7 separate regions of the Homo sapiens genome follow, and regions 2, 3, 4, 5, 6 and 7 are each linked to region 1. The links come from fine-mapping of genetic effects on gene expression. A gene starts in region 1. Each other region holds a variant in brackets. All regions are shown on one strand. Distances are between the middles of the regions.

Region 1 (4,065 bases):
GTCTCAATCTCACCCCTTTACAGATCAGGAAACTGAGGCAGATAATTTATTTGCCTATGGTCACAGGACTAGTGAGTGACAGAGCAGGTGGTTTGGTCTTACAGTCTATGTGTTTAACCACTACACCAAACCACCTCCCTAAGATGCTAGAGGGGGTTTGTGCCAATGCCTGGATTCTAAGAGATTAGATTCTCTTTAGGATCTCTGACCTGTTTCCTCAGCATTCAGAGATAAGGCCAGAAACAATGCCATTTGTGCACGAACTGACAACTGACGGTCCTCCTACCTCCTATTTCTATTTAAAAGGCACTGTAACTTCTTTCCACAGGCAGATCCCTACCTCTCCTCCCTTAGGGGAGGACGAAGGTGTCCCAGCCAAGGAAGATCCTGGTCTCCAAGGGCTGTACCCTACTGATCCGGAGGCAAAGCAGTGAGGGCCCACCCCAATTCCTCACCTCCCATTCTACTCTTCGGCAGAAGCATCTCAGTGTTGGAAAGATAAGGATTTCTTCCTAAAAAGGAAGGATTACACTATATCAGAGTCTGAAGATACAGTTTTCATTTGCAACGCAAGGGAATTCCTTTGAATCTCTACCTTATGATTTCCCTGCAAACCCACTCCGATGGGGCTGGAGAGTGCTCTCTCACTCAGATGAATCTCTCAGGGGTTGTCCAGCAGGTGTTTGCCAACTTGAAGAGCTACCTACTATCACAGACCTATAAAAGTACGCCTGTGGACAGACTGAAAACAAACAAACAAAACACACACACAAACACACAAAACAACCGCACACTGGGAGAAGTTCTAGGCAATTTCCTTGCAAATAACTGCTTTGAAAATTACTGTTTTAAATTGGCAGAACACTAAGGACTTTGAACAGATCATCCCTTTTACTCAATGTTTTCATAACCTTGAAGTGAAGGTGGAGGGAGCAGTACGTTTTAAGGTGCCAGGATTACACTACGGGGTCAGTGCTCCCGGATATGAACTTTCTTTTTCAGACCGACCTTGGGACCTACAGCTTTGTAAGTTACTCATACAACTCCATCAAATGTTACAGGTAGGTCAGAGGACATTCAGGTTGTTTAAGCCTCTATAAATGACTCAGGCAGCAACAATTTACAACGTCTTTGTTTCTGCTATGCAGTGCCCTCCTGCTAGAGATGGCAAAAATGTGGGGAGGGCTTCAGAGCATTCTAAGCCTGGTATTTCTGGCTGGAATTTTTAAATCTCACTACAATCCTGACAAGAGACCACGACCTTAATCTCCCACGGCATGACTGGTTAGTCTTGATCGTAAGCCATATAATCAACACCCAAATGTGCATAACACATCTAAATAATGTCAAAACTACACTATATACCACGCAGGGGACCAGAAATCAATCTTTACCTCAAAAGGATAAGCTTCCAGGATGCAATAACATCCCCTTCCACCCTTTTCTACACCCTAAAACAGTAATATTCACGGTAACAGCAAAGCGGAAATCAGCTTTTCCTGAACATGTACTGAATTCTAGTCACATTCACACACGTTAATTCATTTAATTCCAGCCACAAGGTAGGCAGCCTCTGTTAACATTTTACAATTGTGAGAACGCAGAGATCTGGGACTGGCTCAAGGTGACACACTGCAGCAAGGAGTCAGAATTTGAATCCGAAGCAGTGTCCTTCCCCCTCGCAACAGCTGCGGCGTTACAAACACAGGTCAGCCACGGAGAAATTAATGACCCACAGCCATCCTTGCAGCTCTGCGCCATAACTGGGGAGACAAGCTGGTTCCCGTGACTCTTCAGTCTGTTTTCACCCAAGTGCATGACTGCGGGAGCAAAGCGACCACGTGAGCATCCCCCCCCCACCCCCCCGCTTCCCCCAGGCGAGGGACAGTGCCAGGCCAAGGACAAGTCACAGGTGCAACAACGTGCCAGAACTGGATCCGGAGCCCCAGGGCGCAAGATCTCCCGCAGCGTCACCCGGCAGAGGGACGGGTGTGGCCACCGGGCGCGGCAGGTCCTGCGTGCGCTGAAAGTGCGGCTGGAGGCGCGGACGGCTTTCCGGAGCCCCGAGAGAGGAGCTAGGAATGACTTTGGTCGCAGCCTCTGTAACCCCGCATGACGGCCTCTAGGGGGACAGCGAGGTCCCCCTCGATCTCTGGCTGTAATCAGCCGGCGGGGCCAGACGGTGCCGAGACTCCAGGGCGAGGCCGCAGGGAGGGGGCTGTCCCGCCCCACGTGGACCGGCTCCCCGCTGGGGGCGTGGCCGCCGAAGCGGGCCGGGCCAATGAGCGCCACCGTCGGGCTCACCCGGCTGGGCACGCCGGGCCGAGGAGGGCTGCGTCATGCCGGGGGCGGGGCTTCGGGGCCGGCGCGAGGCGCGGCGGGGTCACGCGGGTCGCTGCGCGGGCTATAAGTAGGGGCCGGCGGGGTGCTCCGCTGGAGTGATGGCTGCCGGCGCTCTCTGCGTGGTTCTTCTTCTCGGCCGCTGAAACCCCCGCGGCTGCTTCCTGGGAAGGTCGTGAGTCCCGCTGAGCTGTCCCCGGTGCCGCCGACCCGGGCCGTGTGCCCGTGGCTCCAGCCGCTGTCGCCTCGATCTCCTCGTCTCCCGCTCCGCCCTCCCTTTTCCCTGGTGAGTAGTGGCGCCGCCTCGTAAAGGCTCTTTCTTCTCCCCGGGGCCGGGCGCGGACGCCGTGGCGCTGGAGGCGGACGCCGTGGGCGGCGCGGCTGGCTTCTCTCTTCGCCGCTGGCCGCCTCCACTCCGCCCGTCTGCCCGCCCGCGGGCCTTTTTGGCGGTCCCCGGGCGGCGCGCGCGGGAACGGCCCTTTTCCGATTTTCGCGCGGAGGGCGCGCGCGGGCTGGCAGCGCAGGGGCTGGGCTGGGCGCGCGCGGGCCGCGGAGGACCCGGAGCCACGTGCCTCTCCTTCTCGCGCGTCCTACTGGGGATGGGGGTCTGGAGTAGCCGGCAGAGGCTATTGCGGGACCCCGGGCGCGTGGGTAGAGCGGGGTGCCCCACTGGCCCCCCAGGGGCACGCAGCTATTGTTATTTCCCCCCTCCCCCGCAGGATGAACTTGCGTCCTTTCTCTTCTCCGCCATGGAATTCTGCTCCGTGCTTTTAGCCCTCCTGAGCCAAAGAAACCCCAGACAACAGATGCCCATACGCAGCGTATAGCAGTAACTCCCCAGCTCGGTTTCTGTGCCGTAGTTTACAGTATTTAATTTTATATAATATATATTATTTATTATAGCATTTTTGATACCTCATATTCTGTTTACACATCTTGAAAGGCGCTCAGTAGTTCTCTTACTAAACAACCACTACTCCAGAGAATGGCAACGCTGATTACCAGTACTACAGCTGCTACCGCCGCTTCTGGTCCTTTGGTGGACTACCTATGGATGCTCATCCTGGGCTTCATTATTGCATTTGTCTTGGCATTCTCCGTGGGAGCCAATGATGTAGCAAATTCTTTTGGTACAGCTGTGGGCTCAGGTGTAGTGACCCTGAAGCAAGCCTGCATCCTAGCTAGCATCTTTGAAACAGTGGGCTCTGTCTTACTGGGGGCCAAAGTGAGCGAAACCATCCGGAAGGGCTTGATTGACGTGGAGATGTACAACTCGACTCAAGGGCTGCTGATGGCCGGCTCAGTCAGTGCTATGTTTGGTAAGTTCTTTTTATGTTTTGTCCTCTTCGTGGTGGGTGAGCAAATTTGTATCATGGGTGGTTCCATTTTTGTGCATAACCTTTCCGATTAACCTTTCTGAATGTGCCACTTACATAATGGAATTTTGATATTTACTTAATAAAACTTTACTATGTTTCAGGTTCTGCTGTGTGGCAACTCGTGGCTTCGTTTTTGAAGCTCCCTATTTCTGGAACCCATTGTATTGTTGGTGCAACTATTGGTTTCTCCCTCGTGGCAAAGGGGCAGGAGGGTGTCAAGTGGTCTGAACTGATAAAAATTGGTATGTTTAATTCCAAACGGCTTCTTAATTTTCGTTTTCGTCATATGTTACCATGGCATTAGGTATGGGAGGATGTGTTCTAACGTCGAGGGACAGACCCAAGA
Region 2 (4,065 bases), 60 kb after region 1:
TTGAACTCCTGGCCTCAAAGTGATGCTCCCACCTTGGCCTCCCTAAGTGCTGGGATTACAGGTGTGAACCACTGCACCCAGCCTTTTGCCTATTTTTAAATTGAGTTGTTTGTTTTCTAGTTGTTGCATTTTAGGTCTTTTTTTTGTCGGGGGCAAAGGGGACGGGGTATCATTTTGTTGCCCAGGCTAGAGTCCAGTGGTACAGTCATGGCTCACTGCAAACTCAACCTCCTGGGCTCAAGCAGTCCTTCTGCCTCAGCCTCCTGAATAGCTGTAACTTTTTATTTTGTTTTGTAGAGATGGGGTCTCACTATGTTGGCCAGGTTGGTATTGAACCCCTAGTCTCAAGCAATCCACCCACCTCAGCCTCTCAAAGTGCTGGGATTACAGGAATGAGCTATGACGCCTGGCTAAGAGTTCTTTGTATAAAGTGGATAACAGTACTTTATCAGATGTGTCTTTTGCAAATGTTTTCTACCAATTCCTGGCTTCTCTACTCATTCTCTTGACATTGTCTTTCAATATTACTGCATTTTAATTAACCACTTTGAAACTCTATAGGGAATTTTTAAGTTCATTTTACTTATTTATTTTTTTGAGACGGAATCTTGCTCGGTCGCCCAGGCTGGAGTGCAGTGGTGCAATCTCAGCTCACTGCAGCCTCTGCCTGCCGGGTTCAAGTGATTCTCCTGCCTCAGCCTCCCCAGTAGTTGGGACTACAGGCATGTGCCACCATGCCCAGCTAATTTTTGTAGTTTTAGTAGAGATGGGGTTTCACCATGTTGACCAGGCTGGCCTCGAACTGCTGACCTCAGGTGATCCACCTGCCTCATCCTCCCGAAGTGCTGGGATTACAGGTGTGAGCCACTGCTCCCAGCCTTTAAGTTCATTTTTAAAAGTTGGTTTTTTTGTTTGTTTGTTTTGTTTTTTTGAGATGAAGTTTCACTCATGTTGCCCAGGCTGGTGTGCAATGGTGCGATCTTCACTCACTGCAGCCTCCGCCTCCTAGGTTCAAGTGATTCTCCTGCCTCGGCCTCCCGAGTAGCTGGGATTACAGGCATGCACCACCACGCCTGGCTCATTTTTGTTGCTGTTGTTGTATTTTTAGTAGAGATGGGGTTTTGCCATGTTGACCAGGCTGGTCTTGAACTCCTGACCGCGGGTGATCCGCCCTCCTCAGCGTCCCAAAGTTCTGGGATTACAGGTCTCAGCCTCTGCACCCGGTCTCATTTTTAAAAGTTTGAACTCATTTTTTTCCTTGTCCTTGAGTACGCTTTTCAGTCTCGGTCTTTGCCTTCTTCCCTCTTATATCTACTGTCTTCACCCTTTTTCACAGCTTGAGTCATTCAATAAATGTTGAGTGTGCACCTACTACATGCCAATCCCTGTAGATACTGTGGATATGCTATGGAACAAGAAAGACAAGCTCCGTGCTCTCTTGAGTCTTCCTGAAGGGTCACATCTACTATATACATAGAAATGTAAAAAGAAATACATGCTTGTTATTTTAAAAAAGAATAAAATAGAAGTGTATAAAGTAGGATGTGAATGTTTCCCCTCAGTCACCCTAATCCCACTCCTCTGTAGTCTCTATAGTTAATGGCTTGGGGTGTAGACTTCGATGGTACCTTTGGCTAAACCAAATCTGCATGATGTGGAGGTCTCAGGTTGTGGCAGACCTGGCAAAAGTATTTCCAGATGGAAATTGGCACTGGTTGGGATGTAAAAACCAAGCCAGAGTATCCCCATTTTCATTCCCAGAAGTTCTCTTTTCGATAGGCTTGCCTGATTGTTGCCTGCTGACCTTGGAAGTACTTGAGGCTTCCAAGATGTGTTCCTTGCAACCCTGGCTGGGATGCTGTTCTAAAAGATTCCATGGTCAAAGGAGTTTGAGATACACTCTCTATTATAATTCCCTTCTTGGGGGCTCATTATGCATATCAAAGCATCAAAACTCTGAGAAGTCCTGCAGTCATAAATCTTGTTTATTCCCATCTTCCCTAAATGTATTTAATCATGTCTTCTATTTGTTCCATGGAACTCTCGTAACTCCTTGTTGATCCCGGGTTCTGTGGAACTGACTCAGGGAGCCCAGGAGCCTGTGCTAGCCCATCTGCATATGGTTATTGCACCAATAGCTCAAGGAGGTAAGCAAGCAAAGTGTTCCAGATCAGTGACTGACACAGTGTCCTGTGCAAATGTGCTGTGAATACAGCATTTCTCCAGGGCATTTTGTATCTTTCTAGGGTGAGGCGAAGGCCTCCGAGGATGTGAGCTTCCCCTGAAAAAATTCACAGCAGATGACCAGTGATGCAGACCAACCTCGCCACCACTCATGCAAGAACATTCTATATTCATGACCTTTGCTTGTGAAACCCAGTGACCACTGTGGGCTCTAGGCTTATTTAGACATAAGCTTGGCT[T/C]GCACTCCAAATTCAATGCCTTCTAGAAATCCAAAGTACTCCTCAGAATTTCCACCATTTCCCTAGACACCATGCCCTCATGTTATCTCTGACTTTAGCTCCTGTTCCTATGGGTGCTGTCCTGGTTCCACGCCTCCAGATGGTAAAAATGTCAGCCCTTGAGATTTCTGCAAAGGGATCTCTTCACAGCAAGCATGTGGTGTATGGGAGGTTTGGAGCAGGAGTGGGCATGTGAAGAAGACAGAGGAGAGGTCTCGGCAGCCTATGGTATGGTAGGCAGCCCCATCTGTAGAGTCCCTGATCTTGGGGGCACCAGTGGCCTCCATCTCATCCAGTCCTGGCTTCCTTTGCACGTGTTGCTGCTCTCTTTCTGTCTCTTCCTTTCCTTCCCCTCTCTCCACCCCCTTTGCTGCAAAGACTCCTGACTCACGCAAGAGTTCAGCCCTATCTGCAGATCTCACCTTACTCAAAGGGGCTTATCAGGCCAGTGGTGAGGGAGTGTGGTCTGTACAACCACAGGAAGCGGGTTGGCCTGTTGGAGCATGAGCTCTTTTTTTGCTTTGTAGATCTTGGTATTTGTTCTTCTTGGATTTTCTAGTGCTTTCTGGAAACTCTGCTTTCTCAGGCTGTAGGAATGGGAATTCAGGGCATGTCCCAATGTGGGAGCAATGAAGGAAGCATAGACAGAGAGATATGTGATGTGCGTGAGAAAGGACAATTTTTAAAATTTTTAATGAGAACAAATTTCTTGGAAAAGATAATCTAAACAAAAGGAAAAAAAATCCAAGTTATAAGAAGAGTATACAGTGAAAAGCAAGCCTTCCTCCCCACTTTCAGTCCCTTAGTTCTTGTTCCTAAAATAGCCACTGTCACCAGCTTCTTATTGATCTTTTGGGAAATGTTTTATGTGTATATAAACAGAAATGTATATGTATTCTCCCCCAATAAAAAAAATAAATGATAGGCTGGACGCTGTTGCTCACGCCTATAATCCCAGCACTTTGGGAGACTGAGGTGGGTGGATCATTTGAGATCAGGAATTCGAGACCAGCTTGGCCAACATGATGAAACCCCGTTTCTACTAAAAATACAAAAATTAGCTGTGCATGGTGGCGGGTGCCTGTAATTCCAGCTACTCGAGAGGCTGAGGCAGTAGAATCGCTTGAACCTGGGACGTGGAGGTTACAGTGAGCTGAGATTGCGTCACTGCACTGCAGCCTGGGCGACAGAGTGAGACTCTGTCTCACAAAAACAAACAAACAAACAAACAATAAATAAATGGTAGCCTGTCATACATATAATTTTACTTTTGCCTTTTAAAAATTTAACAGCATATACCTTCACTATTTTACATGGAGCTACTTATAAATATATGTTCATAAACACACACAACACACGTATATTTTATTTTTTTCCTTTTATTGGCACAAAAGTCAAACCTAGGTGATCCTTCTCATCAGCCATTGGAGAAGGCTTCTAGGGCATGGGATTTTCCAGTATGAGGTGGTATTCTGGGTGCCAGAGATTCCTGACGTCAGATTTAGTGACGATGAACACTAAGCATCGTTTCCAACTGCTCATAGCTGTGGCAGATTGTATCCTTGTTCCCAGTTCTCTTCTGTCCACTCTGTAACAGGATCTG
Region 3 (4,065 bases), 37 kb before region 1:
GACCCTTGCACAGGGCGGCACCAAAACAACAGGGGCCAAATGGCAGCAACATGAGTGCCAGGTGAAGCCCATACCACACTGCAGCCAAGCAGCTTTATAGCTGGTAGCTATGCACATGCTCTCAGGGATGGGAAGGCATAATTCTAGGTGGTCCCCAAATTCCCACTCCCTCATATACATGCCTTGTATCATCGCCTCCCGTCGAGTGTGGGTGCTAATTCTAAGCTACAGACAAGCATTTTCCCCTTCCTTCCTAAGCTACAGCCAAGCCTGCCTGCCTGCCTTCCTTCCTTCCTAAGCTACAGTCAAGCCTGCCTTCCTTCCTCCCCTCCCTCCCTCCTTTCTTTCCCTCCCCTCGCCTCCCCTCCCCTTCTCTCCCCTCCCCTCCCTTCCCTTCCCTTCCTTTCCCTTCCCTTCCCTTCCCTTTCCTCCTTCTCCCTCCCCTCCCCTCCCCTTGCCTCCCCTTCCCTGGCCTCCCCTTCCCTTCTTCTCCCTCCCCTCCCCTCGCCTCGCCTCCCCTCACCTAACCTCTCCTCCCCTTGCCTCCCCTCCCCTCCCTTTGCCTTCTCTTGCCTTCCCTTCCCTTCCTCTTTCTTTTGACAGAGTCTTGCTCTGTTGCCCAGGCTGGAGTGCGGTGGTGTGATCTCATCTCACTGCCTCGGCCTCCTGAGTAGCTGTGATTACAGGCATGCGCCACCATGCCCAGCTTCTTTTTTTTTTTTTTTTTTTTTTTTTGTATTTTTAGTAAAGACGGAGTTTTCCCCATGTTGGCCAGGCTAGTCTCAAACTCCTGACCCCTAGTGATCTGCCTACCTTAGCCTCCCAAAGTGCTGGGATTACAGGCATGAGCCACCGTGCCTGGCCCAGCCAAGTGTTTTCTAGTCTGCAGCTATACTCAGAGGAGGGCAAGGCATGGAGTCTCATGCTTACCAGAACCAGGGAAGCAGGTGATAAACTGGCTCGGGAGAGTTCTGAAGAAGACTGCCCATCTTGAAACCGCCTTTGCCAAAATTATGGGGAATTATGACAGTGAAATAGATCAGACCTAACTGACTCCATCTTGCTTCTAACCTCTAAACTGTCCTTATCCATTCCTGGGCATAGGCCGAACTAGCCTTGGGAAGGAATTTAGTTTATAGTTTAAATAACAGCCCTTCCCAAAAGCAAATCTGTTCTTGTAAAACGAATGAAAGGCCACCAGCCACCAAGTTAGGATGAGAGGGGCTGGAACTCTAAATATTACCAGCTGTTACGTGGAAGGTCATGAGATTTGCAACTTCCCTGATTACTCTTGAAGATAACATCACCATTGTGAACCTGAGATTGGCCTTTTGAGATGTCTTTTCAGGTTTTTCCATTTCTGACAAGTGGTTGGCCTCACCTGGACCTGCCAACCAGTTCTGTGGCACTCACCCAGGAACTGACTCAGCATAAGAGGATAGCTTCGACTGCCTATGAGTTCATCCTCAAGCCAACCAATCGGTGCTCCTGGCTCACTGGACCCCTACCCACCAAATTATTCTTAAAAACCCTGATCCCTGAGTTTTCTTTTCTTTTCTTTTTTTTTTTTTTAATTATACTTTAAGTTCTGGCAAACATGTGTACATCGTGCAGTTTTGTTACATAGGTATACACGTGCCCTGGTGGTTTGCTGCACCCATCAACCCGTCACCTACATTAGGTATTTCTCCTAATGTTATCCCTCCTCTAGCCCCCGACCCCCTGACAGGCCCCGGTGTGTGATGTTCCCCTCCCTGTGTCCATATATTCTCATTGTTCAACTTCCACTTATGAGTGAGAACATGTGGTGTTTGGTTTTCTGACCTTGTGATAGTTTGCTGAGAATGATGGTTTCCAGCTTGATCCATGTCCCTGCAAAGGACATGAACTCATCCTTTTTTATGGCTGCATAGTATTCCATGGTGTATATGTGCCACATTTTCTTAATCCAGTCTATCATTGATGGACATTTGGGTTGGTTCCAAGTCTTTGCTATTGTGAATAGTGCCACAATAAACATACGTGTGCATGTGTCTTTATCATAGAATGATTTATAATCCTTTGGGTATAAGCCCAGTAATGGGATTGCTGGGTCAAATGATATTTCCAGTTCTAGATCTTTGAGGAATCGCCACACTGTCTTCCACAATGGTTGAACTAATTTACACTCCCACCAACAGTGTAAAAGCATTATTTTTCCACAACCTCTCCAGCATCTGTTGTTTCCTGACTTTTTATTTATTTATTTATTTTTTTATTGAGACAGAGTCTCGCCATCTTTCCCAGGCTGGAGTGCAGTGGCACGATCTCAACTCTTTGCAAGCTCTGCCTCCTGGGTTCA[C/T]GCCATTCTCCTGCCTCAGCCTCCCGAGTAGCTGGGACTACAGGCACCTGCCACCACGCCTGGCTAATTTTTTTGTATTTTTAGTAGAGACAGGGTTTCACTGTGTTAGCCAGGATGGTCTGGATCTCCTGACCTCGTGATCCACCCACCTCGGCCTCCCAAAGTGCTGGGATTACAGGCTTGAGCCACCGTGCCCGGCCTGTTTCCTGACTTTTTAATGATCGCCATTCTAACTGGCATGAGATGGTATCTCATTGTGGTTTTGATTTGCATTTCTCTAATGACCAGTGACGATGAGCATTTTTTCATGTCTGTTGGCTGCATAAATGTCTTCTTTTTAGAAGTGTCTGTTCATACCCTTTGCCCATTTTTTGATGGGGTTGTTTGCTTTTTTCTTGTAAATTTGTTTAAGTTTTTTGTAGATTCTGGATATTAGCCCTTTGTCAGATAGATAGATTGCAAAATTTTTCTCCCATTCTGTAGGTTGCCTGTTCACTCTGATGGTAGTTTCTTTTGCTGTGCAGAAGCTCTTTGGTTTAATTAGATCACATTTGTCAATTTTGCCTTTTGTTGCCATTGCTTTTGGTGTTTTAGGCATGAAGTCTTTGCCCATGCCTATGTCCTGAATGGTATTGCTCAGGTTTTCTTCTAGGATTTTTATGGTCCTAGGTCTTACATTTAAGTCTTTGATCCATCTTGAATTGATTTTTGTAAAAGGTGTAAGGAAGAGGTCCAGTTTCAGTTTTCTGCATATGGCTAGCCAGTTCTCCCAACACCATTTATTAAATAGGGAATCTTTTTCCTATTGCTTGTGTGTGTCAGGTTTGTCAAAGATCAGATGGTTGTAGCTGTGTGGTGTTATTTCTGAGGCCTCTGTTCTGTTCCATTGGTCTATATCTCTGTTTTGGTACCAGTACCATGCTGTTTTGGTTACTGTAGCCTTGTAGTATAGTTTGAAGTCAGGTAGCATGATGCTTCCAGTTTTGTTCTTCTTGCCCAGGATTGTCTTGGCTATGCAGGCTCTTTTTTGGTTCTATATGAAGTTTAAAGTAGTTTTTTCCAATTCTGTGAAGAAAGTCTGTGGTAGCTTGATGGGGATAGCATTGAATCTATAAATTACTTTGGGAAGTATGGCCATTTTCACGATATTGATTCTTCCCATCCATGAGCATGGAATGTTTTCCCATTTGTTTTTGTCCTCTCTTATTTCCTTGAGCAGTGGTTTGTAGTTCTCCTTGAGGAGGTCCTTCACATCCCTTGTAGGTTGGATTCCTAGGTATTTTATTCTCTTAGTAGCAATTGTGAATGGGAGTTCACTCATTATTTGGCTTTCTGTTTGTCTGTTATTGGTTTATAGGAATGCTTGTGATTTTTGCACATTGATTTTGTATCCTGAGACTTTGCTGAAGTTGCTTATCAGCTTAAGGAGGTTTTGGGCTGAGACAATGGGGTTTTCTAAATTTACAATCATGTCATCTGCAAAGAGAGACAATTTGACTTCCTCTCTTCTTATTTGAATACCATTTATTGCTTTCTCTTGCCTGATTGCCCTGGCCAGAACTTCCAATATTATGTTGAATAGGAGTGGTGAGAGATGGCATCCTTGTCTTGTGCCGGTTTTCAAAGGAATGCTTTCAGTTTTTGCCCATTCAGTATGATATTTGCTGTGGGCTTGTTATAAATAGCTCTTATTATTTTGAGATATGTTCCACCGATACCTAGTT
Region 4 (4,065 bases), 30 kb before region 1:
TTAGAACATGTTCCTCTAGCTCGGAGTTGTTTGTTATTACCCTCCTTCTGACGCCTACTTCTGTCAGTTCGTCAAACTCATTCTCTGTCCAGTTTTGTTCCCTTGCTGGCGAGGAGTTGCGATCTTTTGGAGGAGGAGAGGCGTTCTGGTTTTGGATTTTTCAGCCTTTTTCCACTGGTTTTTCCCCATCTTTGTGGATTTATCTACCTTTGGTCTTTGATGTTGGTAACCTTCGGATGGGGTCTTTGAGTGGACGTGCTAATCCTTTCTGTTTGTTTCTTTTTCTTCTAACAGGCCCCTCTGCTGCCAGTCTGCTGGTGTTTGCTGGAGGTCCCCTCCTGACCCTGTTTTCCTGGGTATCACCAGTGGAGGCTGCAAAGCAGCAAAGATTGCTGCTTGTTCTTTCCTCTGGAAGCTTCGACCCAGCAGGGAACCTGCCAGATGCCAGCCAGAGCTCTTCTGTATGAGGTGTCTGTCAGCCCCAACTGGGAGGTGTCTCCCAGTCAGTATACACAGGGGTCAGGGATCCACTTGAGGAGGCAGTCTGGCCCTTAGCAGGCTCGCATGCTGTGTTGGGAGATCCGCTGCTGTCTTCAGAGCCATCAGGCAGGGACGTTTAAGTCTGCTACAAGCCTGACTGGGCTGCTGCCTTTTTTACAGAGATGCCCTGTCCAGGGAGGAGCAATCTCGCAGTCTGAACACGGCAGCCTTGCTGAGCTGCAATGGGCTCCACCCAGTTTGAACTTCCCAGCAGCTTTGCTTACACTGTGGTGGTAAAACCGCCTGCTCAAGCCTCAGCAACGGCGGACGCCCCTCCCCCTACCAAGCGCCACCGTCCCAGGTGGATCTCAGATTGCTGCTGTGCTGGAAGCGAGAATTTCAAACCAGTGGATCTTACTTTCCTGGGCTCCATGGGGGTGGGAACCGCCGAGCCAGACCACTTGGCTCCCTGGCTTCAGGCCCCCTTTCCAGGGGAGTGAACAGTTCTGTCTCGCTGGCGTTCCAGGTGCCACTGGGATATGGAAAAATAAAATAAAATAAAAGCTCCTGCAGCTAGTTCAGTGTCTGCCCAGTTGGCCGCCCAGTTTTGTGCTTGAAACCCAGGGCCCTGGTGGGGTAGTCACCAGAGGGAATCTCCTGGTTTGCAGGTTGTGAAGACCATGGAACAAGTGCAGTATATGTGCCCAAGTTCCTCAGGCTGAGACCCTCACAGCTTCCCTTGGGTCAGGGGGAAAATTTCCCGATTCCTTGCGCTTCCCAGGTGAGGTGACACCCCACCCTGCTTCCGCTCAGCCTCTGTGGGCTGCACCCACTGTCCAACCTGCCCCGGTGAGATGAACCAGGTACCTCAGTTGGAAATGCAGAAATCACCCACCGTCTGCATCGATCTCGCTGGGACCTGCAGACTGGTGCTGTTCCTATTCGGCCATCTTGAACCTCTCTCCTGATCCCTGAGTTTTCAGAGAGACTGATTTGAGTAATAATAAAACTCTGGTCTCCTGCTCAGCCAGCTCTGCATGAATTACTTTTTCTCCATGTAATTCCCCTGTCTTGAAAAATGGGCTTTGTCTAGGCAGGGGGCAAAGTGAACCCACTGGGCGGTTACAATCTCACCGTGTTTCAGGAGCCTCGGGTGTTCTTGCACAAGGGGAGTCAGACTGTGGTTGAGCCTTGTCTACATGGCCTAAGTGAAGACATGCAGGGTTGCCAGGGCACTGTGGAGTTGGCACTCCATACCACCATGCTGGACCTTCCACATACCCCGCTGATAATTCTTCTGGATATTGTTTTTTTTTTTTTTTTTTTTGAGATGGTGTCTCACTCTGTTGCCCAAGGCTGGAGTGCAGTGGCACAATCTCGGCCCACTGCAACCTCTGCCTCCGGGTTAAAGCAATTCTCATGCCTCAGCCTCCTGAGTAGCTGTGACCACAGGTATGTGGTACCACACCTGGCTATTTTTTGTATTTTTAGTAGAGACAGGGTTTCACT[A/C]TATTGGCCAGGCTGGCCTTGAACTCCTGGCCTCAAGTGATCCACCCACCTCGGCCTCCCAAAGTGCTGCAATTACAGGCATGAGCCACTGTGCTGAGCCTGGGAATTCTTTTTTTTTTTTTTTTGAGATGAGGTCTCACTGTGTTGCCCAGGCTGGAGTGCAGTGGCACAATCTTGGCTTACTGCAACCTCTGCCTCTTGGGTTTAAGTGATCCTCCCTCCTCAGCCTACCAAGTAGCTGTGACCACAGGTGTGCACCACCACACCTGGTAATTTTTGAATTTTTGGTAGAGGTGGAGTTTCACCTTGTTGCTCAGGCTGGTTTCAAACTCCTGAGCTCAAGTGATTTGCCCACTTGGGCCTCCCAAAGTGCTGATATTACATGTGTGAACCACCATGCCTGGCCTGGAAATTCTCCATCACTTACCTTAGATGTACTGGTAGAAGGTTGGACCAAATCCTTTTCCTTAGGCAACATTAAATGAGAGTAACCATGATGATGACTCCCAGGAGGACAATTAGGCCTGCTTGGAAAAAGATAGGCTGCAATCAGACTTCCCATCCAGAGCCAAGCCAGTTAGGTATGTCATTAATTCAGATGTCCTACTTGGCTGGCTGGCAGAAAATCCAGGGCAATGTGATCATCCATTACCGCTCACACTTGATAGCCCAAACTAGGTGCGTGGTAGGCAATTATATGCCTGATATCCACCATAAGAAGTGCTATTCATTTGGGGCAAAACTGTAAGAGTATAAGTCTCCGGCTATCGTAGCCCAACCTAGTCTCAATGCTACGTCCTGCTCAGGGCGAATTAGATTCTGCTAATAGGTTTGGGTGACCACAGCAGCAGCACAGTGCTGACGTGACGTCAAGGTCCAATTCTCACAAGACTGGAGGCTGGGATTAACAATATAAAGGAAATTTAAGTATCAGAAAGAGCCTGAAAGAAGGAATAGTTCCTGGAAGAATACTTCCAAAGTACTCAAAGGAGGAGATTTTTTTTTTTTTTTGAGATGAAGTCTTGCTCTATCCCCCAGGCGGAGTGCTTTGGCACGAACTAGGCTCACTGCAACCTCCGCCTCCTGAGTTCAAGCAATTCTCCTGCCTCAGCCTCCTAAGTAGCTGGGATTACAGGCACATGTCACCATATCTGATTAATTTTTCATATTTTTGGTAGAGGCGGGGTTTCACCATGTTGGCCAGGCTGGTCTCGAACCCCTGATCTCAAGTGATCGACCTGCCTCAGCCTCCCAAAGTGCTAGAATTACAGGCATGAGCCATCGAGCCCAGGCAGGAGGAGCTATTAAAAGTTTGTCAGCAGGGTCAGGAGGGGTAAGACAGATTGAGCAACACAAGGAAGTTTTGTTATTTTTTTTAGGTAGTGGAAGGGGACCAGAGATACCAGCAATAATAGGATAGGAGAAAGCAGGAAAGAAACCTAAGTGTCCAGAAAATTATCTTTTTTCTGATGTCTTGGGCAGAAGTTCTCCACTTCTAAAGTTGGAGGTCCTCGATTTAAGGTCTCTCGATAGAATGGGAGTAGTAGTTAGACTGAGGGCAGTGGTGATAGCCTGGACAACATGACAAAAAGATTCTGAGATGACAGGCCAAGCCAGGTGTTCTGCAGGCAAGAGCCAAGAGAGATCTAGAGTGTTCCTTCACCACCATCCTGGGCTTTTGATGTTTTTTCATGGCCATGAGATAGGTATAGCTAGTCCCTGCAGTCCTCACTCAGTCTAATACACACCATATGGCTGAGTTTATTCCTAAGCAGTGCAGCTTTGTGTGTGTGTGCGTGTGTGTGTTTGCAACTTGTGCCATCTAGAACATCTTCCACTCCCTCACATAGTGTGCCATGCCGGGACCACTTTGGGAGTCGTCACTTCATACTCATGATCAATATCATCAGTATCTATAATTGCCCAGATCCAGGAAGCATAACTGGACAGTAAAAGCAGCATCAGGTTAGGCTGGGCATGGTGGCTTATACCTGTATTCCCAGCATTTTGGGAGGCCGAGGCAGGTGGATCACGAGGTCAGGAGATCAAGACCATCCTGGCTAACATGGAGAAACC
Region 5 (4,065 bases), 55 kb after region 1:
ATTCTTATTCCTCTTTTTTTAAATAAATAATTTCAACTTTTATTTTAGATTCAGGAGGTATATGTGCATGTTTGTTACCTGGATATATTGCGTGATGCTGAGGCTTAGGGTACAATTGATCCGGTTACTCAGGTAGTGAGCTTAGTACCCAATAGTTAGTTTTTCAACCCTTCCCCTCCTCCCTCCCTCCGTCCCTCCCTCCCCTCTCTAGTAGTCCCCAGTGCCTATTGTTGCCATTTTTGTGTCCATGTATATCCAATGGTTAGCTCTCACTTACAAGTGAGGAAATGTGGCATTGGTTTTCTGTTCCTGCATTAATTCACTTAGCATAATGTTCTCCAACTGTATCCATGTTGCTGTAAAGGATGTGTTTCACTCTTTTTTATGGCTGCTTAGTATTCCATACTGTAGAGGTACCACATTTTCTTTATCTAATCCATGGATGAGCACCAATCCATGATTTTGCTACTGTGAATAGCACTTTGATGAACATACAAGTACATGAGTCTTTTGGTAGAACTATTGTTTTCCTTTGGGTATATACCCAGTAATGGGACTGCTGGGTTGAATGGTAAGCTCAGCTTTAAGATCTTTGAGAAATCTCAAAATTACTTTCCACAGTGATTAAACTAATTTACATTCCCACTAACAGTGTCTAAACCTTTTATTTTCTCCACAGCCTCATCAGCTGGTTTTTTTTTAATTTTTTGACTTTGTAATAATAGCCATTCTGACTGGTGTGAGACGGTATCTCATTATGGATTCGATTCCCATTTTTCTGATGATCAGTGGGTGGAGCATTTTTTTCATATGTTTGTTGGCTCCGTGTGTATGTCTTCTTTGGAGAAGTGTTTGTTCATATCTCTTGCCTACTTTTTAATGGGGTTATTTTTGTTGTTGTTGTTACTCCCTTCTTTTTTTTTTTCATGCAGAATGTAGATACTATTTGTTCTGCAAACTTTTCCCCCACAGTTGTTGGTAAATCTTGGAGGTCTTTCCTTACTAGTAGATAGAAAGCTTCCTCATTCTTCTTTTTTTTTTAATTGAGGTATGATTGACATGCCAAAAAGCTGTACATATTCAGTTTGTACATCTTGATGAGTTGAAAATAAATATATACCCATGAAACTGTCACCATAAAAAAGCCATAAACATAACCATCAAATCTAAAAGTTTTCTCTCTTCCTCTTTTTTTGTGGGTGTGATAATGACATTTAATATGAGCTCTGTCCTCTTAACACCATTTTAAGTATACAATACAGTATTGTTAATTATATGTGCCATGCTGTACAGCAGATCTCTAGGACTTGTTCATCTTGAATAGCTGAAGCTTTGTACTTTTTGACCAGCATTTCCCTGTTTCCCTCTCCCCCCAGTCCCTGGTAACCTCACTTTTCAAAGTCGTATGTGTATAAAGTATTGCATTACTGTGGGGCCTTAACTTTATTTAACCAGCCTTCTATTGATGGATATATGCTACTTATTTTACTGTTATAAGCAGTGTTACCATGAGCAGCCTTATATATGTGGACATTTTGGATTTGTACAAATCAATCTGAAGTGTAAAAGTGGAATGGGTCAAAGAAAGGATTGATCTTTTTTTTTTTTTTTTTTTTTTGTAGAGTCAGTATCTTGCTGTGTTGCCCAGGCTGGAGTGCGGTGGCACCATCGTGGCTCACTATGGCCTCAAACTCCTGGGCCCAAGCAATCCTCCCACCTCAGCTTCTCAAGTAGTTAGGACTACATCACAGCCAACTAATTTTAAACATTTTTGGCAGAGATGGGGTATTGCTCTGTTGCCTGGGCTGGTCTCAAACTCTTGAGCTCAAAAGATCCTCCCGCCTCTGCCTCCCAGAGTGCTGGAATTATAGGCATGAGCCACCACACCTGGCTGATTTATCTTAATTTTGATAGATGCTGTCAGATTGCCTTCCAGAAGTGGTTGCATCCATTTACATTCCCACGAATAATGTTTGAAAGTTCCTCTTTCTCCACAGACTCACCAACAGAGAATATTATCAACTAGTTGGATTTTTGCCAATGTGATAGGTGAAAATTATCTGTAGTGTTAATTTGCAGTTATTTTATGAGAGATTTTGATGATCTTATACATTTAAGAGCCAGTTGTTTTCCTTTTCTTTGAATTGTTTGTTCATTTTTCTCTTATT[T/G]GGTTATTGATGTTTTTCTCAAAGCTCTTTATGTATTAGGGAGATTCACTCTTGTCTGTGTTACGAGTTGTAAGTTCCTCTTCCCACAGTGTCACATGCTTTTGGTTTTGCTTATGGTGTATTTCATCACTGCCTTCTGAATTATGATTGCTTAAATTTTTTTTTTTAATTTTGAAATAATTTATGACCCAAAGAGTTACAAAGATAGTACAGAGAGTTCCCTTAAATCCTTCTTTCAGCTTCCCCTACTGTCCTCCAGAATTATGGTACAATGACTTTCAGTCAGAAAGGTAACATTGACTCAGTGGAGTTAATTAATACATAGATTTCAGTTGGGTTTCCCTAGTATTCCACCTAATGTCCTTTTTCTGTCCAGCATCCAATCTAGGATCCTGTTTTGATTTAGTAATGATATCCTCTGAATCTCCCATCTGTCACAGTTTCTCAGTCTTTTCTTGCTTTTCATGACGTGGACAGTTTTTAACAGTAATGGTTGGGCATTTTGTAGAATCTTCCTCAATATAAGTCCATTCAATGTTTTCTCATGGTTATATGAAGGTTATGGATTTGGGGGGAGAATAATGCAGAAGTAATGTGCTTTTCTACCAGTGTACCATGTCAGGATACATGATATTAACTCTGATTGCTTGGCTAAGACAGTGTCCAGCTGGTTACTCCACTGTAAAGTTTCTATTTTCCCCCTTGTAATTAACAAGTATTTTGGGGGAGGTACTTTGAAGCTACTGAAATATCCTGATTTTTCTTAAGCTTCTGATGCAGGGCAAGTGAGCCTCCAAATTGGAGATTAGCCAGAGGGGGTTTTTGGCTTTGCTCAGGAAAGAATTCAAGAGTGAGCCAGTGGTGTGAGACAGCAACTTTTATAGATGCGGTAGTGAAGGGCAGCAGCAGAGGAACTGCTTCTTCTGGAGCACGGCTACCCATAGGCAATGTGCCCAGAGCAGCAGCTCAGGGGCAGTTCTGCGGTTATACTTATACGTACTTTATTTATTATCATTATTATTTTATTTTTTGACAGAGTCTCACTCTGTCGCCCAGGCTGGAGTGCGGTGGAGCGATCTCTGCCTCCCTGGTTCAAGCGATTCTCTTGCCTCAGCCTCCTGAGTAGCTGGGACTACAGGCATGTGCCACCACGCCCGGCTAATTTTTTATGTTTTTAGAAGAGATGGGATTTCACCATGTTGGCCAGGCTGGTCTTGAACTCCTGACCTCAAGTGATCCACCCGCCTCAGCCTCCCAAAGTGCTGGGATTACAGGCATGTGCCACCATGACTGGCCTGTATTTTATATACAAATTAAGTGATGGGTTATTCAGAAATTTCTAGAAAAGGAGTCATAACTTCCAGATGTTGCCATGGCAATGGTAAACTGTCATGGCACTGGTGGGTGAGTCTTATGGAAAGATATTTTTGGTGCCTCTTCTCTGTTTCAGCCAGTCTTCAATCTCATCTGGAGTCAAGTCCTGCCTCCTACCTCACTTCTACCCACTAATTTTAGCATTCTTATATGGATCTTGTTACAGACTGGGCCAGCTACATAATTTGTAGGTCTTAGCACAAAGCGAAAATGCTGGGATTGCAGGCCTGAGCCACCGTGCCCCATCAATCATTGCTGTTTTAAAATTAATAAACTTTATCTTTTAAAGCAGTTTTAGTTTCACAGCAAAACTGAGCAGAAGGTGCAGAGTTCCCATCCACCTCTCCCCACCCATGCACAACCTCCCACACTGTGGACATCCCCCACCAAAATATTAAAAATCGATGCACCTGCACTGACTCATCCTCGTCACCCAGAGTTCATAGTTTACATTAGACTTTGCTCTTGGTGCTGTACATTCCATGGGTTTTGACAAATGTATAATTACATGTATCCACCATTA
Region 6 (4,065 bases), 84 kb after region 1:
GCCCAGCTGGGGCCGATCACAAAGGGTCTTTGCAGAGCCTTTTACAAAGCACAGCCGTTTGATCTTCCCCACAGCCTTAAGAGGTGGATGGAGCAGGGATTGTCACCTTTATTTTACAGATGAGGAAACTGAGGCTCAGAGAGAGGTCATCCTGGGAGTAAATGTTGGAACCATTCTCTAGGCTCTAAAAGCAGACAGGAAACAGGGCCTGGTGGCGGGGTGGGGCCTGCCAGGATAGTAGGAGCGAGGCTGGGGGTGTCGCCTTGCCAAGTCCTCTGTTGGACTCAGATGGTAAATGAAGCTGTGGGTTTAGTCCTGGGTGGTCCATCTTCAGGGCCAGGCAGGTAACTGTGATGGAAAGCTGCAGCGGGGCCTGTGGCAAAGTGAGGAGCTGCCCCACCTCCAAAAGCCAAGTGTGCAGCCTGTGGGTCTACAACATGCTGCTCCTTCCTACAGAGAGTCACAGGTTTCAATGTCCCCCGGTGAGAGGCCCAGAGAGGCCAGGGTTGCCCAGAAAGGGAGTAGGCCAGGTCAGGCCTAAGCGGGCTGGGATTTCAATTCAGTGTGTTGCCCCTCTGGCCAGAGGGTCACCCAGGAGCTGGACCTGTGCTACAGCACCATGGGCAGCTTGTTCCGCTGCGGTTTCCGCCAGACACTCTTCTCCAGCCAGCTGATGCGCTATGCCGACCTCTACACTGCCGCCTGCCTCGACCTCCTGTACTTCCGAGTGAGCTCAGCTCTCTCGGGCGGCCCCGGAGTTGGTGGGTCCCTGCGGAATCTCCACGGCTGTTTGTGAACATTTATCCTAGAAGGACCCACTGGTCCCCAGCCTTGCTAGGAGCTTGCAAGGTCACCAGCCCTAATCTCCCACCTTCAGACTCAGTGGGATCACAGTCTTGCAGATAACTGTCTGTGTCTTAACAGACGCATGGGAAGAGTTAGGTTTATACAGATAAGATGCCTCGGCAGGGATGTTCTTCCTCATGCCCAACCTTAACTCCTGCTTTAGATTGAGACCACACTATCTCGTCATTTCCTTGGTAGAAAGGATATCAGTTGCAAGGAGGAAGGCACAGTCCTCCTACCCTCAGTAAACATACAGTGGCTTCCGAAGGGGTGGAGGAGGCAGCAGATGATACAGTAAACACTCTGGCTGGTTTTCCTCTGGGAGACCGGAGGATGCTTCTGGGTTAAAAACAGGGTGGTAGAGGTGGCTACGATGGCACTGGGCAAGGGTTAGTAGGAGTCATGGGACTGGCCAGCTCAGGGCTTCCCTGGAACCTGCACGTGTCAGTCCTCCCAAGTTGGCATCATCATTTCCATTTGATAAGACGTAGAGCTTGCAGTTTAGGATCTGAACTTGAAGCTAGACCTCTGAGGCTCCCTGTCGCCTGCCTTCCCTGCTGCCCTTGGCTGCCTTCCAGACGTTTGAGAGGGGAAAACCATTTATTGAGTGTCTGCTGTGTTTCCTGCACTGGGCTGGGTGCTTTTCATCGATTATGCTTAATGCTCAATATAACTCAGCAAAGTAGGTTTTATCTTCCTCATTTTATCATTGATGAGGAAGCACAGAGAATCTAAGTGACTTGCCATCACACAGCTAGTGGACCACACAGCTGGGATGTGAGCCTGTCAAGCTCCAGGGGTCACACTGTGTCTCCTGCACTGTGCTGCCACACACATGGGGGAACTGGCTTTCACCGGGCGGCCTCATCTCATCTCTGGACTCTTAGATGGGCTGGCCCAGAC[C/T]GCTCCTGTGGGCAAAGCTGGGGGTCCAGGCATAGCCCTCTGTGCTGGTAGATATTATTGTTAAAGTAGAGACCAGACAGGTGAAGAACACACCAACCCCCCATCCCCAAAAGTGACAAGGCGAAACACTTAAAGAAATTTGACCTTGCCAATCTTCCTGGCTTGGGATTTTTTTTTTGGCCAAGTCTAGCTCTGCTGCCCAGGCTGGAGTGCAGTGGTGCAATCTCTGCTCAATGCAACCTCCACCTCCCGGGTTCAAGCAATTCTTGTGCCTCAGCCTCCCAAGTAGCTGGGATTACAGGCATGCACTACCATGCCCAGCTAATTTTTATGTTTTTATAGAGACAGGGTTTCACCATGTTGCCCAGGCTGGTCTTGAACCCCTGGGCTCAAGTGATCCGCCTGCCTCGGCCTCCCAAAGTGCTGGGATTACAGGCGTGAGCCACCGCGCCTGGCCTTGGCCTGGGATTTTTGAGGAAGTGAAGTCCAGCTGCCAGAACCTTCCTGCCCCTGCTGACCTTCCGAGGTTCCTTCCTCTGCAGCAACATCGTTGGGCAGGAAGTTGGCAGCTGTGGGCAGGGGAGCCTGTGCATAGCTGAGGAATCCTGGAAGGCCGTACCCGGGACGGAGTGCTTCACCTCCACCTGCATTTATCCCTACAGATGCCACATGAGTCAGTTGTGGAGCAAGAACAGGCCAATCTAGACCCTGCCTCCTGCCTCCTCTCCTGCAACCAGAGGGTGAGTGGCTGTGGCCGACGAACTCTGTGGCTTGGGGTCCCATGGGCTAGAGTAGTGGTTCCCAGTGGGGTTGTATCAACCCCAGGACGCATGAGGCAATTGGTGGGGGGGCTTGTGGGCTTGTTTTTGTCTGCAAGCATAGTCATTCCTCATTATTTATGTAAAAATGCGTATTATTTTATTGTAAAATGCTTTTCTCTTTATTTCTCCTTTGTTAGAGTATTATCTTGATACTTTAAATTATAGAGATGATAATTGTATCGATGAATTTCAATTCAGGATGGAAAAGTAGAAGCTAAATATTTGTTTTTAAAATGGGATATTGGAGCCAGGTGTGGTGTTTCACACCTGTAATCCCAGCACTTTGGGAGGCTGAGGCAAGTGGATCACCTGAGGGCAGGAGGTCGAGACCAGCCTGGCCAACATGGTGAAAACCCGTCTCTATTAAAAATACAAAAATTAGCTGGGCATGGTGGTGGAAGCCTCTAGTCCCAGCTACCCGGGAGGCTGAGGCAGGAGAATCACTTGAACCCAGGAGGCGGAGGTTGCGGTGAGCTGAGATTGCACCACTGCACTCCAACCTGGGCAACAGGGAAAGACTGTCTCAAAAAAAAAAAAAAAAAAAAAGCGACAGTTGGATCCAAAAGGGCGACAGGTTCTGCTCAGCAGTGCTTTGTGCACTGTTGGGCCCTGCACCCCTACGGACTGCTGTTGGCCAATCCATACACATTATTCCCTCCAGGGGAAGTTGCAGGATGTGCCCTCTTCCACATTGAGGCTTCCTCCCCAGACAGGCTTTGTTAACATTAATGACTAGTGGCTCTAGCTTCAGATCCCTTTGACACTTTGTGAGGCTTGACCCGCGTCTGAGCTGAGACAGGAGTGGATGCCTGGATTCCTCGTTGGGTTCTGCACCCCCAAAACCCTGCATAAATGTTCCTCTTTCTCCCTTGGCTTTCTGGGGGCTCACTTTAAAAGATGTGTATCCCATAGGTCCCCTTTAGCTGGGTTGTACCAGGCACAGTGTTTGTTCTTTCAACCAGTATTTACTGAGCACCTCCTGTGTGCCGGGCAGTTTAGAAAATAAAGTGTAAGTTACTTCATTCCTGCCTAGGAGAAGCTCAAAATTCAAGTGCATTCACAGGCTTTAATCAGTGGTTGGCAACTGTTTTTCTATCCTAGCCCAGCAGAGAGATGGACACACTCCTGTCAGTAACAGAGGCTTGCTGGGGAAGCCTGTGGTTTGATCCCTCTATATCCTCACCCCATCAGGATCCAGCCTAGGGCATTTTGACACATTATCTACCCCTGGTTGGGCGTCACTGTGTGAGCTTGGGAAGAAAATATCCATAGTCACTTTCTGTGTTTCTTATAAGGGTTAGGGCAAAGAGAGAAACGAGGATCAGGAAAGTTACATCGAGGCTGACGGAATCCTGGACATGGGCTGGCATCACGGGCCATCTTCTACTTGAGATATTTTTCAGATAACACAAGTATGGAAAAAGGAAAAAGCAACTGTATTGAAATCTCCTAAATGCAGCAGATTTGGAGCCTGCAAACACTTCTTTTAGGGAGG
Region 7 (4,065 bases), 540 kb after region 1:
AAAAAAAAAAAAATTAGCAGAGCATGGTGGTAGACGCCTATAATTCTAGCTACTCGGGAGGCTGAGGCAGGAGAATCGCTTGAACCCAGGAGGCAGAGGTTGCAGTGAGCCAAGACTGTGCCGCTACACTCCAACCCGGGTGACAGAGCGAGACTCTGTCTCAAAAAAAAAAAAAAAAGACAGCTGCCAGGGGAGTGCTTACGACATGCCATAAGGACCTGTGTACTTGACCCTGCACTTCCACTTTGTGGAGAGCCAGCACCATGAGACAAACAAGTTACAAGCTTCACAGTGTGCTTTGGATCAAAACAAGCCAGCTATTCTGAGGAAGCAGGGCTGCTCTGAGAGCCGTGTAAGCGGTGGGCTGCATGCAGGGGATGGAAATGCATGCTTCTAGAAAACACCCTGCGAGGTTCCTGGGCTCATCTGATAAGGGCCCACCCAGAGTGTTAGTGCAGGCTGTGCACACAGCAGCTCTGGGCAGATGTGAGGCAGTTCCAGGCAGACATGGCTGCCACATCCCAGCCTCTTCCTCCCTAGAAGGCAGAGATCTCCTCCCCATGCAGCAGGCAGTCTGCTGGGTGGTAGGCAGCAGGGCTGAAGCATCCTCCCTTCATGAGGGCTTGGGCTGAGTTAAGCAGAGAGCCCCTTGCTGCTTCCACCTGGGCCAAATTCCAAGCTGCCAACAGCTTACAAGGACAAAGAAGCAGGCTGTGAGCCAGCCTGGTGAACAGGGTAAGGCCCCAAGGATAGGAGCCTTGGAAAGTGGAAGTAAGGCAGGCTGTGGCCTTCATGTCGTGGGTGCCTGCTTCTTCCATGAGTCTGTTGCATTCTCCTCACCTCGTCTGTGTCTGTTTGGCTCCCACATGCTTTGGTTTACATGTCCTTTGTGGCTTGCAGCTGCTTCCTTGATACCTAGAGGCATTTCCGCCTTCAGTTCCTGCTGCCAACCACCTCGGTCTCCACACTCTCCAATCCAAATGCCCAAGAGAAGGATCTGATTTGGCCAGTTTGTTCTTTTCAGCTAAGCCACATGGGCTACCTTCAGCCAACAGATGGGTGTCTTTGGGGCAGGTGCTGCCCTGGTGCAAGTTTAGAGATTGTGGGATCAGATGGAATATGTGGTACACTCCTTACTCCCAGCAGGGCTGTGGAGGGCAGTGCTAAGGAGCAGCAGGCATAGATGGGGAAGACACTCCAAACACATCTAACACACTACACACGTGCCTCCAGAGGCTGACAGCCCTTCCCTAACCTGCACTTGCTTTGGGCATTTCCAGGGTAGATATGGATTCCCAGTTTCTCCAGCGGCCAGTGCTCCCCCTAGTCCACACAGTGAGACCGTGAAAGCAGATGCTCCGGGGCACTCCTGGGCAGCTTTTGCTCAGTGGATGATGGGTGACTACAGACTCCCTGACCACCCCCAGCCCATGGAAATTCTCAACCTGTACTTGGGAGACAGCCTGGAGCCCCACCCAGGAGAGTGCCCAAGGGAAACGTGCAGCCATGAGGATCCACCGGAGCCTTTCGAGGAGCAAACCTGGGCCACTGACCCTCCTGAACCTACCAGACAAAATGTTCCTCCCTGGGGCTCCGGTGTGGAGCTCACACACCTGGGGAGCTGGGTCCATCAGGACGGGCTGGAGCCTTGCCAGGAGCAAACCCGGGCCACTGACCCTCCTGAATCTACCAGACAAGATGCTCCTCCCTGGGGCTCCGGTGTGGAGCTCACACACCTGGGGAGCCCCTCTGCCCAGAGGGAGCACAGGCAGAACACAGCATCACCAGGGTCACCAGTGAACAGCCATCTACCGGGGAGCCCAAAGCAGAACCGGAGCACGTCCACACAGGTAGTGTTCTGGGCAGGCATCCTGCAGGCCCAGATGTGTGTCCTAGACCTGGAGGAGGAGCTGGAGAAGACGGAAGGGCTCAAGGCTGGGCTGAAATGCTGTCTCCCCACGCCCCCTGTGGACCTCCCCGGGGACACGGGCCTGCACTCCAGCCCACCTGAGAATGAAGACTCAGGGGAAGACAGCAGTGAGCCTGAGGGAGAGGGCCAGGCATGGCTGAGAGAGGGAACCCCAGAC[T/C]CTTCCCCACAGTGGGGAGCTGAGGAGGAGAGCATGTTCTTCAGCAACCCCCTCTTCCTGGCGAGTCCTTGCTCAGAGAACAGTGCTTCTGGAGAGTGCTTTTCCTGGGGGGCTTCAGACTCCCATGCAGGTGTGAGGACTGGACCTGAGAGCCCAGCGACTCTGGAGCCTCCCCTCCCAGAAGACACAGTGCTGTGGGAGCTGGAAAGTGAGCCAGATTTGGGGGACGGCGCTGCTATCAGTGGGCATTGTACCCCTCCATTCCCTGTGCCCATCTATAAACCACACTCCATCTGCTGGGCCTCAGTGGCTGCCGCTGAGGGGGCTCCTGCAGCACCTCCTGGTCACGGGGAGAGTGAGGTAAGCCCAGTCTTGGGAACCAACCGGGGCTGTGCTGGGAACACAGAAGGGAGGGTCTTCCTCGGGGGTCACCAGGCCCAGAACATTCTTTTCTGACGCTAAGAGCTTTGGGGATAACCTGCATCAGTATATAGCAGGGTAATAGAGCAGAAAATCAGGACCAGTGTTGTCTTCAGAATGATAGGACATTTTATCAATGCCATGATGTCAGCTGATGTCAGCTGATAATTAAGTCCATAAATGTCTCCATCTCACCAGCTCCAAGGGGCCATGCCTAGATACGTTTGGAGAACAAACAGCTCCTCCAATTGCAGCATGTTCCAGGCCATTCTCAGATTCTTCCCCTCCCATCTCCAAGACATTCCCAACTGTAACAGGGCAGCGCTCAGCCTGCAAGGGTGACCTTTGCCCCTAACAGAGAGATGCCTATTTCAAAAGTCCAGTCCTCTCTCTTCTTGACAGATTTCAGCATGTTGTTACTTTTAGCTCACCATCTGTCATTATTCCCCTGTCCAGTGTCAATAGATCAGGCCCATATGACAATGGCAGAGATTCTTAATATCAACTAAGGATGGGGACATGCTCTGTGAGACAATAGGGAGCACAGTTTTCCCAGGGAGGCCTCTCCTTAAGAGATAAGGAGACTCAATATGGTAGAGTGTGGCTGTAATTTTCTAATATCTCAATTCCCTGAGAACAATGAAGAGCTATTACCCAGAGCAGCTCTATTACCAGAGCAGCTCTTGGAGCCCAAGATCAGAGAAGCTCCTGGGTACTGATGGGAGTCCTCTCCACCATGGGCCAGGGCCCCCAGTGTGGGGCAGTTAGGGCTGTGCCTGTGGAGGTCCATTTTCTCAGGACTTTCTTTTTTTTTTTTTTTTTTTGAGACGGAGTCTTGCTATGTTGCCCAGGCTGGAGTGCAGTGGTGCCATCTTGGCTGACCCTCCACCTCCCAGGTTCAAGCGATTCACCTGCCTCAGGCTCCCAGGTAGCTGGGATTACAGGTGTGTGCCACCCCACCCAGCTAATTTTTGTATTTTTAGTAGAGATAGGTTTCACCATGTTGGCCAGGCTGGTCTTGAACTCCTGACCTCAGGTGTTCCAAACACCTGGGCGTCCCAGAGTGCTGGGATTAAGTGAGCCACTGCGCCCGCCATGGACTTTCTTGTTCTAAGCACTAACTTCTCAGAGGGAAGCCTGGGAACGCTATAAGTTGCAGGTTGGCTCCTGTCTGGGAAGGCAGAGCCCACCCAGCCCAGTGCCTGGGGCTATCACCCTCCCTAAAACACAGCCCCTCCTTGGGCTGGCACCACCTGAGGCAGGGCCATCAGGGCAGACTGTGAAGGGAGGAGGCTTCATGGGATTTGAGAAAGGCCCTGGGAGCAATTTTCCTCTAGTCACCTCTCCTCTCCTTCTCTCCTCTGTCTCTCTCTCGACTTCTCAGGGAGATAGGCTTGGTCCTGCTCCATCTGCAGCACCGTGTGTGGACGAAGCATTGACCTGGGAATCAGGATGTGTCGGATCTGATCTTGGCCCTGCTGCACATCCTGTGCAACCTTGGGCAAGTCACTTCCCCTTTCTGGGCCTTACTTTCTCCATCTTTGGAGGAGGAATATGA

Direction of the effects. Alleles are on the strand shown, and positions count from the first base shown. SD is a standard deviation of normalised expression in the study named. Not every link is listed here.
For the expression in regulatory T cells of the gene that starts at base 2,436 in region 1, allele C in region 7 goes with a higher level than allele T (large effect, 0.85 SD a copy in Bossini-Castillo 2019).

What was found. PIP is the estimated chance that this variant, and not a neighbour inherited with it, causes the effect.
Region 2: its variant is fine-mapped to the expression of SLC20A1 in whole blood (INTERVAL, PIP above 0.99).
Region 3: its variant is fine-mapped to the expression of SLC20A1 in whole blood (INTERVAL, PIP above 0.99).
Region 4: its variant is fine-mapped to the expression of SLC20A1 in whole blood (TOPMed, PIP above 0.99).
Region 5: its variant is fine-mapped to the expression of SLC20A1 in whole blood (TOPMed, PIP above 0.99).
Region 6: its variant is fine-mapped to the expression of SLC20A1 in whole blood (TOPMed, PIP above 0.99).
Region 7: its variant is fine-mapped to the expression of SLC20A1 in regulatory T cells (Bossini-Castillo 2019, PIP 0.95).

What each region holds. Positions count from the first base shown.
Region 1 is chr2:112,643,504-112,647,568 of GRCh38, forward strand. SLC20A1 (solute carrier family 20 member 1) reads left to right here and starts at 2,436. Exons shown (of 11, transcript NM_005415.5): 1 at 2,436-2,626; 2 at 3,060-3,659; 3 at 3,821-3,961. The coding sequence starts at 3,326. It overlaps SLC20A1-DT (SLC20A1 divergent transcript), which reads right to left and starts at 677. Exons shown (of 5, transcript NR_033871.1): 1 at 596-677; 2 at 456-512. RefSeq lists silencers at 2,098-2,927, 3,389-3,683.
Region 2 is chr2:112,703,525-112,707,589 of GRCh38, forward strand. No RefSeq gene overlaps it. Among named protein-coding and RNA genes, the nearest start is that of NT5DC4, 15 kb to the right of the region's middle. The variant T/C (reference allele first, on the strand shown) is at 2,424.
Region 3 is chr2:112,606,826-112,610,890 of GRCh38, forward strand. All of the region lies in intron 1 of LOC124907869 (a long non-coding RNA gene), which reads left to right. Among named protein-coding and RNA genes, the nearest start is that of CHCHD5, 24 kb to the left of the region's middle. The variant C/T (reference allele first, on the strand shown) is at 2,342.
Region 4 is chr2:112,613,919-112,617,983 of GRCh38, forward strand. It overlaps LOC124907869 (a long non-coding RNA gene), which reads left to right. Exons shown (of 2, transcript XR_007087193.1): 2 at 295-1,506. Among named protein-coding and RNA genes, the nearest start is that of SLC20A1-DT, 28 kb to the right of the region's middle. The variant A/C (reference allele first, on the strand shown) is at 1,990.
Region 5 is chr2:112,698,170-112,702,234 of GRCh38, forward strand. No RefSeq gene overlaps it. Among named protein-coding and RNA genes, the nearest start is that of NT5DC4, 21 kb to the right of the region's middle. The variant T/G (reference allele first, on the strand shown) is at 2,169.
Region 6 is chr2:112,727,216-112,731,280 of GRCh38, forward strand. It overlaps NT5DC4 (5'-nucleotidase domain containing 4), which reads left to right. Exons shown (of 17, transcript NM_001393655.1): 16 at 2,412-2,489. Among named protein-coding and RNA genes, the nearest start is that of NT5DC4, 8.2 kb to the left of the region's middle. RefSeq lists an enhancer at 1-318. The variant C/T (reference allele first, on the strand shown) is at 1,750.
Region 7 is chr2:113,181,066-113,185,130 of GRCh38, forward strand. It overlaps PSD4 (pleckstrin and Sec7 domain containing 4), which reads left to right. Exons shown (of 17, transcript NM_012455.3): 2 at 1,281-2,447; 3 at 3,892-4,008. The coding sequence starts at 1,392. Among named protein-coding and RNA genes, the nearest start is that of PSD4, 9.1 kb to the left of the region's middle. The variant T/C (reference allele first, on the strand shown) is at 2,088.